Linked DNA regions of Homo sapiens: region 2 is linked to region 1. The links come from fine-mapping of genetic effects on gene expression. Tissue or cell type: whole blood. Region 1 holds a variant in brackets; the other region holds the start of a gene. All regions are shown on one strand. Distances are from middle to middle.

Region 1 (8,101 bases):
GGATTACAGGTGTGAGCCACTCAACCTGGCCACTTTCCTGGTATTTTGCTGAGGATTTTTGCATCCATATTGATAAGAGATATTAGTCTATAGTTTTCTTTGAGATGGAGTCTAGCTCTGTTGCCCAGGCTGGAGTGCAATGGCACAATCTTAGTTCACTGTAACCTCCACCTCCCAGGTACAAGAGATTCTCCTGCCTCAGCCTCCCTAGTAGCTGAGATTACAGGTGGGTCACCATGTTCTGCTAATTTTTTTGTATTTTTAGTAGAGATGGGATTTCATAATGTTGGCCAAGCTGGTCTCGAACTCCTGACCTCAAGTCCCAAAGTGCTGGATTACAGGCATGGGCCACCATGCTTCACCTTGAGTAGATTTAAATTGATTGGTTTTTATTTTTCTTAGGGGTCATGTTTTCCTGTCTCTTTGTATACATGCTAATTTCTGTTGGATGTCAGACACTGCCAATTTTACTTTGTTAGGTACTGGATTTTTTTTCTTTTCTTTCTTTATTTAAAATTTTTTCTTTTTAATTTCTTGTAATACTCTCCTATCCAATGGAGATTTTGTTTGTTTGTTTGTTTGTTTTCAGACGAAGTCTCACTCTGTTGCCCAGGCTGGAGTGCAGTGGCGCAATCTCAGCTCACAGCAACCTCTGCCTCCCAAGTTCAAGCGATTCTTCTGCCTCAGCCTCCTGAGTAGCTGAGACTACAGGCACACACCACCACGCCCAGCTAATTTTTGTATTTTTAGTAGAGATGGGGTTTCACCATATTGGCCAGGCTGGTCTCGAACTCCTGACCCTGTGATCTGCTTGCCTTGGTCTCCCAAAGTGCTGGGATTACAGGCATGAGCAACCGCGCCCGGCTGATTCTTTTTTTATATATACTTTTTTTTTTTTTTTTACTTTTTTTTTTTTTTATTGATCATTCTTGGGTGTTTCTCACAGAGGGGGATTTGGCAGGGTCATAGGACAATAGTGGAGGGAAGGTCAGCAGATAAACAAGTGAACAAAGGTCTCTGGTTTTCCTAGGCAGAGGACCCTGAGGCCTTCCGCAGTGTTTGTGTCCCTGGGTACTTGAGATTAGGGAGTGGTGATGACTCTTAGAGCATGCTGCCCTCAAGCATCTGTTTAACAAAGCACATCTTGCACTGCCCTTAATCCATTTAACCCTGAGTGGACACAGCACATGTTTCAGAGAGCACAGGGTTGGGGGGTAAGGTCACAGATCAACAGGATCCCAAGGCAGAAGACTTTTTCTTAGTACAGAACAAAATGAAAAGTCTCCCATGTCTACTCCTTTCCACACAGACACGGCAACCATCCGATTTCTCAATCTTTTCCCCACCTTTCCCCGCTTTCTATTCCACAAAACCACCATTGTCATCATGGCCCGTTCTCAATGAGCTGTTGGGCACACCTCCCAGACGGGGTGGTGGCCGGGCAGAGGGGCTCCTCACTTCCCAGTAGGGGCGGCCGGGCAGAGGAGCCCCTCACCTCCCGGACGGCGTGGCTGGCCGGGTGGGGGGCTGACCTCCCCACCTCCCTCCCGGACGGGGCGGCTGGCCGGGCGGGGGGCTGATCCCCACCTCCCTCCTGGACGGGGTGGCTGGCCTGGCGGGGGCTGACCCCCACCTCCCTCCCGGACGGGGCGGCTGCCGGGCGGAGACGCTCCTCACTTCCCAGACGGGGTGGCTGCCGGGCGGAGGGGCTCCTCAATTCTCAGATGGGGCGGCTGCCGGGCGGAGGGGCTCCTCACTTCTCAGATGGGGCGGCTGCCAGGCGGAGGGTCTCCTCCCTTCTCAGACGGGGTGGCTGGGCAGAGACGCTCCTCACCTCCCAGACGGGGTCGCGGCCGGGCAGAGGCGCTCCTCACATCCCAGACGGGGCGGCGGGGCAAAGGCGCTCCCCACATCTCAGACGATGGGTGGCCGGGCAGAGACGCTCCTCACTTCCTAGATGGGATGGCGGCCGGGAAGAGGCGCTCCTCACTTCCTAGATGGGATGGCGGCCCAGCAGAGACGCTCCTCACTTTCCAGACTGGGCAGCCAGGCAGAGGGGCTCCTCACATCCCAGACGATGGGCGGCCAGGCAGAGACGCTCCTCACTTCCTAGACGGGGTGGCGGCCGGGCAGAGGCTGCACTCTGGGCACTTTGGGAGGCCAAGGCAGGCGGCTGGGAGGTGGAGGTTGTAGCAAGCCGAGATCACGCCACTGCACTTCAGCCTGGGCACCATTGAGCACTGAGTGAACCAGACACCGTCTGCAATCCCGGCACCTCCGGAGGCTGAGGCTGGCGGATCACTCGCGGTTAGGAGCTGGAGACCAGCCTGGCCAACACAGCGAAACCACGTCTCCACCAAAAAAATACGAAAACCAGTCAGGCGTGGCGGCGCGCGCCTGCAATCGCAGGCACTCGGCAGGCTGAGGCAGGAGAATCAGGCAGGGAGGTTGCAGTGAGCCGAGATGGCAGCAGTACAGTCCAGCTTCGGCTCGGCATCAGAGGGAGACCGTGGAAAGAGAGGGAGAGGGAGACCGTAGGGAGAGGGGGAGGGGGAGGGGGAGAGGGAGAGGTACATTTTTTTTTTTGAGACGGAGTTCCGCTCTTGTTGCCCTGGATGGAGTGCAATGGCGTGGGTCTCAGCTCACTGCAACTTCTGCCTCCCAGGTTCAAGCGATTCTCCTGCCTCAGCCTCCTAAGTACATGGGATTATAGGGGCCTGCCACCAAACCTGGCTAATTTTTGTATTTTTAGTAAAGACGGGGTTTCTCCATGTTGGCCAGGCTGGTCTCAAACTCCTAAACTAAGGTGATTTGCCTGCCTTGGCCTCCCAAAGTGCTGGGATCACAGGTGTGAGCCACCATGCCCGGCCAAATTATATTATTAATATAATGTTTTGGAGACAGGGCCTTGCTCTGTTACCAGGCTGGAGTGCAGTGGCATTATCATAGCTCACTGTAGCCTTGACCTCCTGGGCTCAAGTGATCCTCCTGCCTCAGCCTCCTAAATAGCTGGGACTTCAGGCACTTGCCACCTGTTTTACATTTGTTTACATTTACATTGTAAAACAGGCACATGCCTGCCTGTTTTACATTTGTTTTTGCAGAGACAGGGTCTCACTATGCTGCCCAGGCTGGTCTCAAATGATCCTTCCACCTTGGCCTCTGAAAGTGCTGGGATTACAAGTGTGAGTCACGGTGCCCGGCCCTGGAAATTTTCTTTAGGCAGCAAGGTGGGGCATTTGTAGGGTTTTCCTCATTTGTTTGCTGACTCTCTGGAATCACTATTTTTCATCTTATGGGTTTCAATGTCTTGAGAACCATGTTTCACATACTTTGGGGAGTATTTTAGTTGTTTTTAGGTGGGAATGTAAATCATCTTGTCTAGAAGCAGAAATCCTTACAATCATTT[A/G]TTAATTTCTTTAGCTGGCATTTATTGAGGAAGAGCTTAGTGTGTGCCCACCTTCCATTTGTCTTACAACTCTCCAAACACTCCAAATTTTCCTGCCTTGGGGTCTTTGCACAATTTTTCCTTTGTCTAGAATGGTCTTTCTAGCTCTACTTTCCTCCCTCAGCTCAAAGGGGCCTTCTCTGACTACTCTATGTAAAGTGAATCACTCTCTTTTTAATTTCCCATCACATTTCTGCTTTATTTTACAGCTTCTTCTACTAGAATAGAGCCAGACTTTTTTTTTTACTTTTTTTTTTTTTTTTGAGACGGAGTCTCGCTGTGTCGCCCAGGCTGGAGTGCAGTGGCGATCTCTGCTCACTGCAAACTCCGCCTACCGGGTTCATGCCATTCTCCTGCCTCAGCCTCTAGAGTAGCTGGGACTACAGGCGCCCGCCACCACGCCCGGCTAATTTTTTGTATTTTTAGTAGTGATGGGGTTTCACTGTGCTAGCAAGGATGGTCTCAATCTCCTGACCTCGTGATCCACCTGCCTCAGCTTCCCAAAGTACTGGGATTACAGGTGTGAGCCACCGTACCCGACCTTTTTTTACTTTTTTAACCTTAAAATTTTTTTTTTCACGCTTGTAATCCCAGCACTTTGGGAGGCTGAGGCAGGTGGATCATGAGGTCAAGAGATCGAGGCCATCCTGGCCAACATGGTGAAACCCTGTCTCTACTAAGCACCACTGCACTCCAGCCTGGCAACAGAGTGAGACTGTGTCTCAAAAAAAAAAAATTTAGAGATAGGATCTCACTATGTTGTCCAGGCTGGGCTCAAACTCTTGGGCTCAAGGGATCCTCCCATCTAGGCCTCCCAAAGTGCTGGGATTACAGGCGTGAGCCACCGCGCCTGGCCAGGCAGGAATTTTTGTGATTCTCTGGAACCAGCTCAGGGCCAGGCACACTGTTAAGTGTTCAATAAATATTTACTGAATGAATAAATGAGGTCTTTGCATACTTCATGGTGCCTGTCACATAATAGAGCTCAGTCAAATTGCGGGTGCCTGGCTGAGGAACACAGCCCCCTCCCCTGAGTTGTCCAGCGGGGATGGGATATTGGGCCTCTGGATTGTGCCCATGTTCAGCTCACCCTCAGCCTCACTCTCCTTAGTGATAACCAAAGGCCCCTGCTTGCCGGCCAGGGGAGGGCTGACAGGTGGGGCTGATGAGTTCCAGACCCAGTCCTCTGGGCCCCAGCACAACCAGATAGAACCGGATGCTGGCTGGAAGCCAGAGCCAAGCTTCCATGACGTCGTTGCCTTCAAGGGGCGTGCCCTCCCTGGCCCGTGTGGGCCTTCAGCTCTTGCCCACCGGGCTCAGAGCCTCCTGCCACTGGGCTCTGGGGAAAAACCTAGCCATCCTCCCTGGTTCTAGTTCTGCATCTACTTGTGCAGCCACTGACAACTATTAGAACACAGAACTAAATAGTGGTCGGCGCTATAAAGTGAAAAATACTTTGTAGATTTAAAACATTCTGTAAGTACTCACTAAACTAGAAAGGACTTGGGAAGCTTCTGTTCAAAACCACTACTTTTGACAGAGGAAGAAGCTGAGATTTAAATGAAATAATGGGCTGGGTGCAGTGGCTCATGCCTGTAATCCCAGCACTTTGGGAGGCCCAGGTGGGCAGATCACTTGAGAGCTCATGAGTTCAATCCTAGCCTGAGCAACATGGCAAAACCCCATCTCTACTAAAAATACAAAAATGAGCTGGGTGTGGTGTCGCATGCCTGTAGTCCCAGCTACTGGGGAGGCTGAGGCAGAAGAATCACTTGAACCTGGGAGGCAGAGGTTGCAGTGAGCCGAGATCATGCCACTGCACTTCAGCCTGGGCAAGAGAGCAAGACTCAGTTTCAAAATAAATAAATAAACAAAATAAAAATAAACAAATAAATGGAATAATGTATGTAGACTGCTTAGCACCACACTTGGGACGTTGTGATTTTACTCTAGCTATTCACCGCCTGCCCACCTCTGGCTAAGCAAACTCTGCGTTTGTGCCTCTCCACTTCCGCACACTCCCCTCCCACCTTGTCAATGAATTTTTTGTTCATTTATGTCACTTCATAATAATATATGCAAAGTGTTTAGCTCAAGGCCTGGCACTTCATAAATGAACAAAAAATGGGCCGGGTGTGGTGGCTCACATCTGTAATACCAGCATTTTGGGAGGCCGAGGTGGGTGGATCACCTGAGGTCAGGAGTTTGAGACCAGCCTGGCCGACATGGTGAAGCCCCTGACTCTACTAAAAATACAAAAAATTAGGCTGAGGCTGGGCACGGTGGCTCACGCCTGTAATCCCAGCACTTTGTGAGGCTGAGACAGGCGGATCACTTGAGGTCAGGAGTTTGAGACCAGCCTGATCAATATGATGAAACCCCGTCTCTACTAAAAATACAAAAATTAGCCGGGTGCGGTGGCAGGCATCTGTAATCCCAGCTACTCGGGAGGCTGAGGCAGAATAATCTCTTGAACCCGAGAGGCAGAGGTTGCAGTGAGCTGAGATTGCGCCATTCTACTCCAGCCTGGACGACAAGAGTGAAACTCCATCTCAAAAAAAAAAAAAAAAAAGAACAAAAAATAGTAGCTACAGTTCTTATTGAAACAGGGGATCCATCTGATAAATGCAAAGCAAAGCACTTTGCATATATCATTTAATTCTCATGTAGGATGAAATCGGTATCATTATTCCCATTTTACTGATGAGAAAACTGAGGCTTGAAGTAAGTGGCTGATGCAGTTCAGACCCCAGAGTAGGAAGATGCCAAACTGGTAGGTTCTGGCTTCTCTTCCCTTAGTGGTATCTTCTAACAAATTGTATTTCCTGCTAGCTATTCCTTCCTGTGCCTTTGGGGAAGGTCATCTGGCCCTGAACATTCATTTGGTCAATCACTGAAACAGGGTAAGATGGGGTCTAAAACCTCCAGCTGAGTGTATGTCCTGAAGCCCAACTCTGGGTTTGTTTGTTTTTTTTTTTTTCCTTGAGACAGAGTCTCGCTCTGTCGCCAGACTGGAGAGCAGTGGCACGATCTTGGCTCAGTGCAACCTCTGCCTCCTCGGTTCAAGTGGTTCTCCCGCCTCAGTCTCCTGGGTAGCTGGGACTACAGGTGCATGCCACCATGCCCAGCTAATTTTTTTGTATTTTTAGTAGAGATGGGATTTCACCATGTTGGCCAGGGATGGTCTTGATCTCTTGACCTCGTGATCCACCTGCCTCGGCCTCCCAAAGTGCTAGGATTACAAGCATGAGCCACCGCGACTGGCCAACTCTGAGCTTTTTTAGAGTTGGCAGCAAGGATGTTTCTGAAGGTCAAAGATAATCCCGTGTCAAAAACAGCTCTGGGGCAGGAGGAGTCATGTTCTGTGGGAATGAGCCCTCAGACCCAGCCACTTCCTCATCAAATGTCCTAGTAGCTGGGTCTCCTGGAGCCCCTAGCTCTGCATTCCCACAGGATGGTAGGAGCTGCTGATGGAGGCAGGCAAGTGGAAGTCCAGCCCTGTAGGAGCTCCAGTTCACAGAGGGGAACTGAACTGGCCTTTTTGGAGGAAAAGAAGACTTGAACCAAACTTGGAGGACCTGGTCAACTTGGATGAAGGAGAGTGAGGTGGGACGAGTAGGCTTTCTGTTCAGTGCAGAAAAGCTGGGACTGCTGGTTAAGCCATCAGCATTTCCCAAGCCCCACGGGTGTGTCCCACTGGGTGTTCACACCACAGACCCTTCAAGGGAGGATTGTCATTGCTGTGTGTCAGATGAGGAAACTCAGCCAGGGTCCAAGACTGCAGGAGGGATGTGCTGAATGCATGTGATGAGGAAATGGGGACCATTCTTTTATTTATTTATTTATTTATTTATTTATTTATTTATTTAGAGACAAGGCTTGCTCTGTAACCCAGGTTGGAGTGCAGTGGCACAATCTCGGCTCACTGAAGCCTTGACTCCCAGGCTCAAGCAATCCTCCCACCTCAGCCTCCCAAGTAGCTGGGACCACAGGTGTGTGCTACTGCACTGGGCTAATTTTTTTCTTTTCTTTCTTTCTTTCTTTTTTTTTTTTTTCGAGATGGAGTCTCGCTGTCACCCAGACTGGAGTGCAGTGGTGTAATCTTGGCTCACTGCAACCTCTACCTCCTGGGTTCAAGTGATTCTCCTGCCTCAGCCTCCCAAGTAGCTGGGACTACAGGCTCGCATCACCACGCCCAGCTAATTTTTGCATTTTCAGTAGAGACAGGGTTTCACCATGTTGGCCAGGCTGGTCTTGAACCCCTGACCTCAAGTGATCCATCTGCCTTGACCTCCCAAAGTGCTGGGATTACAGGTGTGAGCCACTGTGCCCAGTCCTTTCTTTTTTTTTCTTTTCTTTTTTTTTTTTTTTTTGAGACAGTCTTGCCCTGTCGCCCAGGCTGGAGTGCAGTGGCGCGATCTCGGCTCACTGCAACCTCCGCCTCTCAGGTTCAAGCTATTCTCTGCCTCAGCCTCCGGAGTAGCTGGGATTACAAGCACCCACCACCACGCCCGGTAATTTTTGTATTTTTTTAGTAGAGATGGGGTTTCACCATCTTGGCCAGGCTGGTCTTGAACTCCTGACCTTGTGATCCACCTGCCTTGGTCTCCCAAAGCGTTGGGATTACAGGCGTGAGCCACCATGCCTGGCCTT
Region 2 (8,082 bases), 26 kb before region 1:
CCTCCCTCAACCCAATAGTATAAATACCACTCTCCCCCTTCCAGGGGTGCCCCCCAGTTAAAAATTACTTTAACAATCTCCAAACTCTTCAAGTTGTATACACTAAATATACACCTTTATATATGCCAATCATACCTCAAAAAAGTGGTTTTTAAAAATTACTATAACTTAGTATCACCTCGTACCGTTTAGTTGTCCCTCGATATCTGAGGCGGATTGGTTCCAGGGTTCCCCCTTGGATATCAACATCTCCAGATGTTCAAGTCTCTTATATAAAATTTGTATATAACCTATGCACAGGCCGGGCACGGTGGCTCACGTCTGTAATCTCAGCACTTTGGGAGGCCGAGCTGGATGGACCACTTGAGGTCAGGAGTTCAAGACCAGCCTGGCCAACATGGTGAAACCCCGTCTCTACTAAAAATACAAAAATTAGCCAGGCATGGTGGCGTGCACCTGCAATCCTGGAGGCTGAGGCAGGAGAATCACTTGAACCTGGGAGGAGGTTGCAGTGAGCCGAGATTGCGCCACTGCACCCCAATCTGGGCAACAGAGACTGTCTCAAAAACAAAACAAGGCTGGGCGCCGTGGCTCAGGCCTGTAATCCCAGCACTTTGGGAGACTGAGGTGGGCAGGTCACCTGAGGACAGGAGTTCAAGACCAGCCTGGCCAACATGGTGAAATCCTGTCTCTACTAAAAAACAAAAATTAGCCAGGTATGGTGGCGGGCACCTGTAATCCCAGCTACTCAGGAGGCTGAGGCAGGAGAATTGCTTGAACCTGGGAGGCAGAGGTTGCAGTGAGCTGAGATTGTGCCACTGCACTCCAGCCTGGGTGACAAGAGTGAAACTCCCCTTCAAACAAATAAAAAAATAACCTATGCACATTTTCTGGATACTTTAACTCATCTCTAGATTATTCACAATACCTAATACAATGTGAATGCTATGTAAATAGTTGTTATATTTATTTGTATTATTTTTTATTATTGTATTTTTTATCTACAACTGGATTCATGGATAGGGAACCCATAGAAATGGAAGGCCAACAGCAACTGTATTATGAAAGCAAGGTCTCCACTTTCAAAATAGAAATCACATTTACCCCTCTTCAGAGACATGGTAATTACCCAGTTATCCCTTGAGAATCACTAAGACAGGACATTTAGGTCTGAAGTTTGGCAGCACTGATACAGCCTGCCCCGGACAGGTTCATGTACTGTATTACCTCATGTCGTCCCCAGCTCCAGTCAAGACTTACCTGCAGGACAGCACAACCTCTAGATTGGGAGGGACATTCAGCTCCTCCCCTTAATTCCTTACTGCCCTCCTTAGCTTTCAAAGGGTATCAAAGCTTCGAACACATCTTCCCAAGTGGCAGAAAAATGCCAATTTTCCCGTAATACCACAGTCATTACTGCCCTAATTCCAAACTCTCATTATGGCTGCACTGCCTGATATTGCTGCAATATAGCAAACTCCAGGTAGTTACCCAAACAAGCCATGTGGTTACACAAACCTACCTCCTCACTTATACATGCGACTCCCTCCTCTTGGAATGCCTTTTCCACCCCCACAGGTCTAACCTTGCTCCTCCTACTCACCCACATCTCAGGGAAGGCTGACCTCTAATCTCTCAGGAGCACCATGGTACCATGTGCTCATATGCCTTTATTTTATCTATCATTGCATTTCACCTACCACCACTTCCTGGCAAGTCCTTCCGACCTCCTAGGCTGAGAATTTTCACTTGTATCCTTAACCCCTGGGTCCAGAAAGAAAACTTAATGCGTATGACATGGATAAAGCCTATAGGTAAGGTAGTCAAGCAGGCAGAGTCAAGGCTATCCAAAGCAGTTCAGGACAAGCAACCTCACTGATAACTCCCAGAACCATGAAAAATACACTCCCTTCGCCAGTGACCCAGCGCCTTTAGGAATTGAGGTCTTACGGCGTGCAGCAGCATTCCTTGGTTTCCTGGGCTTGCTCTCGCTAGTCTCCAAGAGTTGACTGGGAAGAAGCCACCTGTGTCAGCCATGGGAGTAAACCACTGCTAACGCTGATTCTCCAGATGGTTGCTCTTAGGGGCTGCAGAACTGACTGCTTAGGGAGCATCTAAACTACAGGGAGGATTCCAGTTCCAGCCTACACCACCAATCCAAGATGGAGCCACCAGCACAGGGGCTCATGGCCCACTATTCAGAAGACTAGGCCAGGGCTTGGGGAATAACCCTTTCCCTTACCAGACCAGACAGACACTGGGCTCCAGGAGACCCTCAGAACCCTTTGTTCTGGACCTCTGCTAAACGCGAGCCCACCATGCCCTTTTCCAAGTGCGCGGATTTGGAACCACCATAGGGCCGCAGGCCATCTCAACTCCCAAGGAGGAATAGTAGGGATTCCACTTTTTGAGAATCCTGCCCTCTTTCCCAGAAAAGGTACTTAGAAAGGAGTGGCTAAAACCTCAAATGCTTTTTTCAAGACTTAGAATGGCCACATGGGTCACCCTTCTCACCCAACAGCAGTGGGTCTGAGGGTTTGCCCAGTACCAGCCTCTTGGGCAGTGTGAAGTCCCCACTGAAGTAGACCCTTTAGCAGAAGTGGGGTTCTGGGTCCCCATTCAGCTTTATAGGAGACATGCTCTCCCCCAGTTTCAGCCCACAGCAGGGGGCCAAGCAGAGACTCCAAGTACGCTAGCAACCCTGTCACCCTCCCCAACTGTCAAGGGAGATTCTAACAGCCAGGTAGAGTCAGGATGGGGGCAAGATCCCCAAAGCCAAGGGCCTTTTGGCATCAAGGTACAAGGAGGGCAAGGCCTCTGGAGCCCAAACAAATCCACCACACTTAAGTCATTAGTGGACAGATGTCACAGTTGTATATTCTTCCCTTCCCCTTCCGCCAAAAAGTGGAGATCCAAACCTAGATTGTCATCGACTGGGGCTGGCTGAAGGTCTCTGAATAGCCGAGTGGGAGCTGGCGGCGCTGAGCCCAGCCCAGCCGAGGGCCACCGGCGCCATTCTGCACCAACCCCCAGCACAAGGGGAGGAGGCAACACCAGTCCACACCAGGGGCTCTGCGGTTTCTCCCCCAGGCCAAGGGGAAGGGCGCCCAAGGTGGATAACCAGCCCTTGGTTTCCTGGGCGAGAACATGCCAGGGCAGGGGCAGGAAGGCTCTCTCACCCCTAGAATGACGCAGCAGAGGCCAGAGGCCCTGCGAAGCCTGTCCCCTTCTACTCCAGTTCTTGTCTCCGCCAGCCTAGCTCCTCGTCCCTATTCACTGATATCTTTGAGGCTTTTATCCAGCACCCCACCCCGCACACACATCCTCCCTACCATCCATTAACCACCCAGCTGCTGGTGGTTCCACGGAGCCGCCTTACACTCCCTCCCTTTCGCACATGGCCGGTGGACGAGATGATTTCGCCCCTCCTGGCAGGATCCCACCCAGGCCAGCTTTGGGGTCCTGGCTTGGTTGCCAGGACAAACCCAGAGAGAGGAGAAGGACGAACTGAGTGTCTTTAGTCATCTTCCAAACTAATTAAATTGTGGGCTCACCTCTGCCAAAGCCCAGGTTCTGGGGCTGTGAAGAAAGCCCGCCCACCCCCATGACAACAGCTCGCAGGAACCGAGGAGCCGGCCGGCCCAGGCCTCCAAGGTCACGGGGAGGGGGTCAGGGCGGAAAAGGCAGTGGAGTGAGGGTGCCGCCCTCGGGCCGTGCTAATCCCGCTCCGCTCCGTGCCGCCGAGGCGGGGTCCTGGCCACGCAGGAGGTGCGCCTCGGAGGAGGGCGGCGAGCGGCTACGGGGTGGGGAGCAAGGGGCGCGCGGGCGGCAGGCATGGAACGGACGCGGCGCATCTCGCCCACCGCGGGACGCCCGGACGGCGGCCGGCGCGCGCGGCCCGCCTCGAGCCCGAGAGGGCGGGGAGACAATGCCTGTCCGGCGGGGCAGTCCAGGCCGCACGCTCCCGCCCGCGGACACGGGCCGCTCCTACCCGGGCGAGAGGGCAGCGGCGGGAAGGCGCCGGGAGCGATGGCCACCCCGGCCCCGCGAGGCGCGGCAGGCCCCGCTCGCCCTCTCCCGCGCCCGCCTGGCGTGCGCTTCACCCGGCAAGTCCCGGGGCCACAGACCCACCTCCTCCTCCAGGGCGCCGCCGGAGCCCGCGCCGGAGCCGGTGCCGGTGCTGCCGCCGTGCTCGCCGTCCGGCTTCAGGTTGCTCATGGTGCGGGGGAGGGGGCGGCGGGAAGGAACGCGAGGGCGAGCGCGGCGCCGGCCCCGCGGGAAGTGGGAAGGGGCGCGGGGAGCGGTGCGCTCGCGGGTGCGGAGCGGGTGGCGGGGGACCCACGGGGCAGTGAGAGGGGCAGCCTCCGCGTCGGGCCAGGGTCACATCAAGTTTGGCGGGTGCGGAAGGTGGGGAGGGGGTGCGGCGGGGGAGGCAGTGGGAGCCGGAGGGGCCGCCGCCTCCGCCTTTTCACTGCGACCGGCGAGTGCGCCGCGGCGGCGGCGGCGGCGGCAGCGGCGGCGGGGGGCGGGCGCCGGGGGAGGGGGCGGGCGCCGGCGGCGGGGGGCGGGGCCGGAACCGGCCTCAGCTGGGGCCCGGCCAGCCCCCTCCCCCGCCCGCCGCGCGGTCTCCGGGGGAACGCGCAGCCAATCCCCACCGCCCACCGTGGGCTCGCCCCGGCCCCGGCCGCGGGGCGCCGGCCTCCGGCCGGGCCTTTCCCCTCTCTCTCGCCTGGGTCAGCGCTCTCCCTCTCTCCTCTTCCCCCGCGCCCTTCTCCACGGCGAGTTTTTAAACTTTGATGAACTCGCCCGGCGAACTTTCTTAAAGGGGCCGCGCGCTGCGCGCCCCAGCCCGCGGGAGGTGGAGCCCCGTGCCCCGCACCCAGCGCCCCGGTCCCTGGGCGGCCCTGCCCGGGCGGCCTCGCGCTTAGGGCACCCGCAGCGAGGTTTCCGGGCCGTCGACTCCCCTTGTATCTTGATCTAGGGTTTTGGGGTTCCCGACGCACTCATTCTGCCCCTAAATCCAGTCGCGCAGACCTCAGCTCCGGGGGACCGAGTTCTGGGGGTGATGGCCGGGGGGAGGGGGTTGGGAGACACCTGAGCTTTGGCCCGGGCTGGGCGCTGTTTTGCTGAGTGACCTTGAGGAAATCACTTCCCCTCTCTGGCCTCAGGCTCCCAGCCCAGAGGGTGGGACTTAGGATCTCAAACTCCCTTCCCACTCCCAGTCACTATCTGAATAGGACTTAGGTGGGGATTCGAGTGTTGGGACCCCAATGGTCATTAGCGAGGGCTGCCTCGAATGACCAAGAAGGTTCTGTTGCCCACCTTGCCCTCAACACGCCTGGCTTTCGGGTCTTCTCGCTCCTCCCCCGACCTCAGTGCCCCTCACACCTTTCCCTGCCTCCTATTCTGAGCCCGAAGGCTGGGGACGGATGTAATAGCCTAGAGGCTGGGGGAGGTGGGGGAGGTCGTCGTGACTCCCCCCGCACCCCCGCGCAGGTCAGTAGGGCGCGGCCTCTGGGTCGGTTTTCTCTTCTATTTGAAAACCCAGCCGATGGGGGCCCGCCCTGCTGCCACAGTAGAAACCCGCACCCACCTCGGGGAGCGCTGGAAGCGCTGCAGCCTGAATCCGGCAGAGCCGCGGGAGAACTGGGTCCCTCCTCAGTGCCCCTTCTCCTGGACGGGGCGGAGGTTGCGGTGACCCGAGATCTTGCCATTGCACTCCAGCCAGGGCAACAAGAGCGAAACTCCGTCTCAAAAAAAGAAAAGAAAAAAGAAAAGCTGGATTTGCAGTCACGGACTGGTTAGGATCCCAGACCGTGGACAAGTGCCTGAGCCCCCAGAACCTCTGTGTGTCGACCTCCTGAATTAGGTAGGACTAGCACCACAGGATCACTGTGCTGTGGCTTAGTCTTCCCAGTAAATTATAATCTCCATCCTGACCTGCCATCTCACAGATAAATTGAGGCCTAGAGATGGGCAATGTCTTTCCAATGATATACTCATTCCTTTAGTAAATAATTATTGAGCACCTACTGTGGGCTGGGGACCATTTTCTGCTGGTGGCAAGGCCAAGAGCACCCTGGTTTCCCATCAGCCCTGTTGCCAACACTTGGCTCAGGCCCTATGAAGAGGGAGCTGCTGCCTGTAGGAGCCAGACCTTTACCCAGAGTTTTTAAGATGCCTCCAGCCTCAGGCATCTCCAGATAGAACCAACCTTGGGAACCCTCAGATACCCCTACCATCCTCCACAGGCCTCAGTCCAATCTGGCTGTGGGCTTGATCACCATCCCCTCCCCTAGAATAGGTCTTCCTATCAGGTTTGTCTCTAACTTTGGCCCAGGAATACTCTTCCTCTTCCTCTTCCTCCCCCGCTCCCCCTAATCAATCCAAAATCTTCCCTTCCCTCAAGATCCTGCCTTTCCCATGCTTTTTCCAGGAGAAGGAGCCTGGCCAGATTTCTGAACTCAGCCATTATATGGTTAATTTGAATTTTTCAAAGAAGAGCCTCTCATCTTGTAATTCTGGTCACCCTTCTTCTCCATTCTGGTCTCTGTTTTCTCCATAGATGGGAGAGCTAAGGCCCAAAAAGGTGACAAATGACACAGGGGCCACAACTGACCCCCATCACTACATTTCTTTTCTTTTTTCATTTTTTTTTTTTTTGTTTTGGGGGCTTTTTTGAGATGCAGTCTTGCTCTGTTGCCAGACTGGAGTGCAGTGATGCGATCTCGGCTCACTGCAACCTCCACCTCCCAGTTTCAAGCTATTCTGCCTCAGCCTCCTGAGTAGCTGGGACTACAGGAACGCACAACCACGCCCAGCTAACTTTTGTATTTTTAGTAGAGACGGTTTCCCCATGTTGGTGAGGATGATCTTGATCTCTTGACCTTGTAATCTGCCCCCATCAGCCTCCCAAAGTGCTGAGATTACAGGCGTGAGCCACCGCGCCCGGCCTTCTTTTCTTTTTTTAGAAAAAAGATCTTGCTCTGTCACCCAAGCTGGAGTGCAGTGGCACAATCACAGCTCACTCCAGCCTTGAACTCCTGGGCTCAAGTGATCCTTCTACCTCAGCCTCCCAGGTAGCTGTGATTACAGGTGCAACACCACGCCCAGCTAATTTTTTTTTTTTTTTTTTAAGAGACTGGCCTCTCATTATGTTGTCCCAAGCTGGTGTTGAACTCCTGGGCTCAAGTGATCCTCCCACCTTGGCCTCCCAAAGTGCTGGTATTATAGGCGTGAGCCACCACACCCAGCCTGTATTTCTTCTTAAGTTCTTCATAATTTGTAGTAAATGCTTACCCCTTATTAGACTGCCATTACTTATTTAACCTGTCTCTTGTTAGATATTTGTATTATTTCCAGTTTATTTTCTCTTTTGCCTTCATAGGCAAACTTTATATGAGGATTCTTTTTTTTTTCTTTTTCTTTGAGACGGAGTCTCACTATGTCACCAGGCTTGAGTGCAGTGCATCCTCCATCTCCCAGGTTCGAGCAGTTCTCGTGCCTCAGCCTCCTGAGTAGCTGGGATTACAGGTGCCTGCCACCACACTCGCTGTCACACCTGGCTAATTTTTGTATTTTTAGTAGGGACAAGGTTTCACCGTGTTGGCCAGGCTGGTCTTGAACTCCTGGCCTCAAGTAATCTGCTCACCTTGGCCTCTCAAAGTGCTGAGATTACAGGCATGAGCCCGCCCTCTTATATGAGCATTCTTAATGCCTCAGAAAGTTTCCTGTATGTGTGACCAGCCCTTAAGCACTTTGGAGGCAACAACTGTCTTTTCCCTCTCTGTGCACCCCTATGGCCCCTGAAATGGCAGAATCTCCAATCTCACATGGATTTGGAGATCATATAAACACAAAGCTCCCACCCAGCCCGCACCTTCATGAGTAGTCAGGCGTACCCATTGGTGCTGACCAGAAGCTGATGTGAAAGAGGCTAGAGAGAGGAGTTTGGGGTGTACAACTCTTTCAGACATCTGAAGGGTAGGAACTTATATCTCTGTCTCCCCAGCTATGACCTAGTAGTGTAGCCTCTAGTAATCTCTTCAGTGCCCCAGGCCTCCCCCACTGTCATGCTCCATA

What was found. PIP is the estimated chance that this variant, and not a neighbour inherited with it, causes the effect.
Region 2: RBPMS2 starts here. The variant in region 1 is fine-mapped to the expression of RBPMS2 in whole blood (INTERVAL, PIP above 0.99).

What each region holds. Positions count from the first base shown.
Region 1 is chr15:64,797,523-64,805,623 of GRCh38, forward strand. No RefSeq gene overlaps it. Among named protein-coding and RNA genes, the nearest start is that of PIF1, 24 kb to the right of the region's middle. RefSeq lists an enhancer at 1,740-2,642. The variant A/G (reference allele first, on the strand shown) is at 3,410.
Region 2 is chr15:64,771,102-64,779,183 of GRCh38, forward strand. It overlaps RBPMS2 (RNA binding protein, mRNA processing factor 2), which reads right to left and starts at 4,488. Exons shown (of 8, transcript NM_194272.3): 1 at 4,132-4,488. The coding sequence starts at 4,218. RefSeq lists enhancers at 39-540, 4,349-5,195, 5,196-6,041 and a silencer at 4,664-4,913.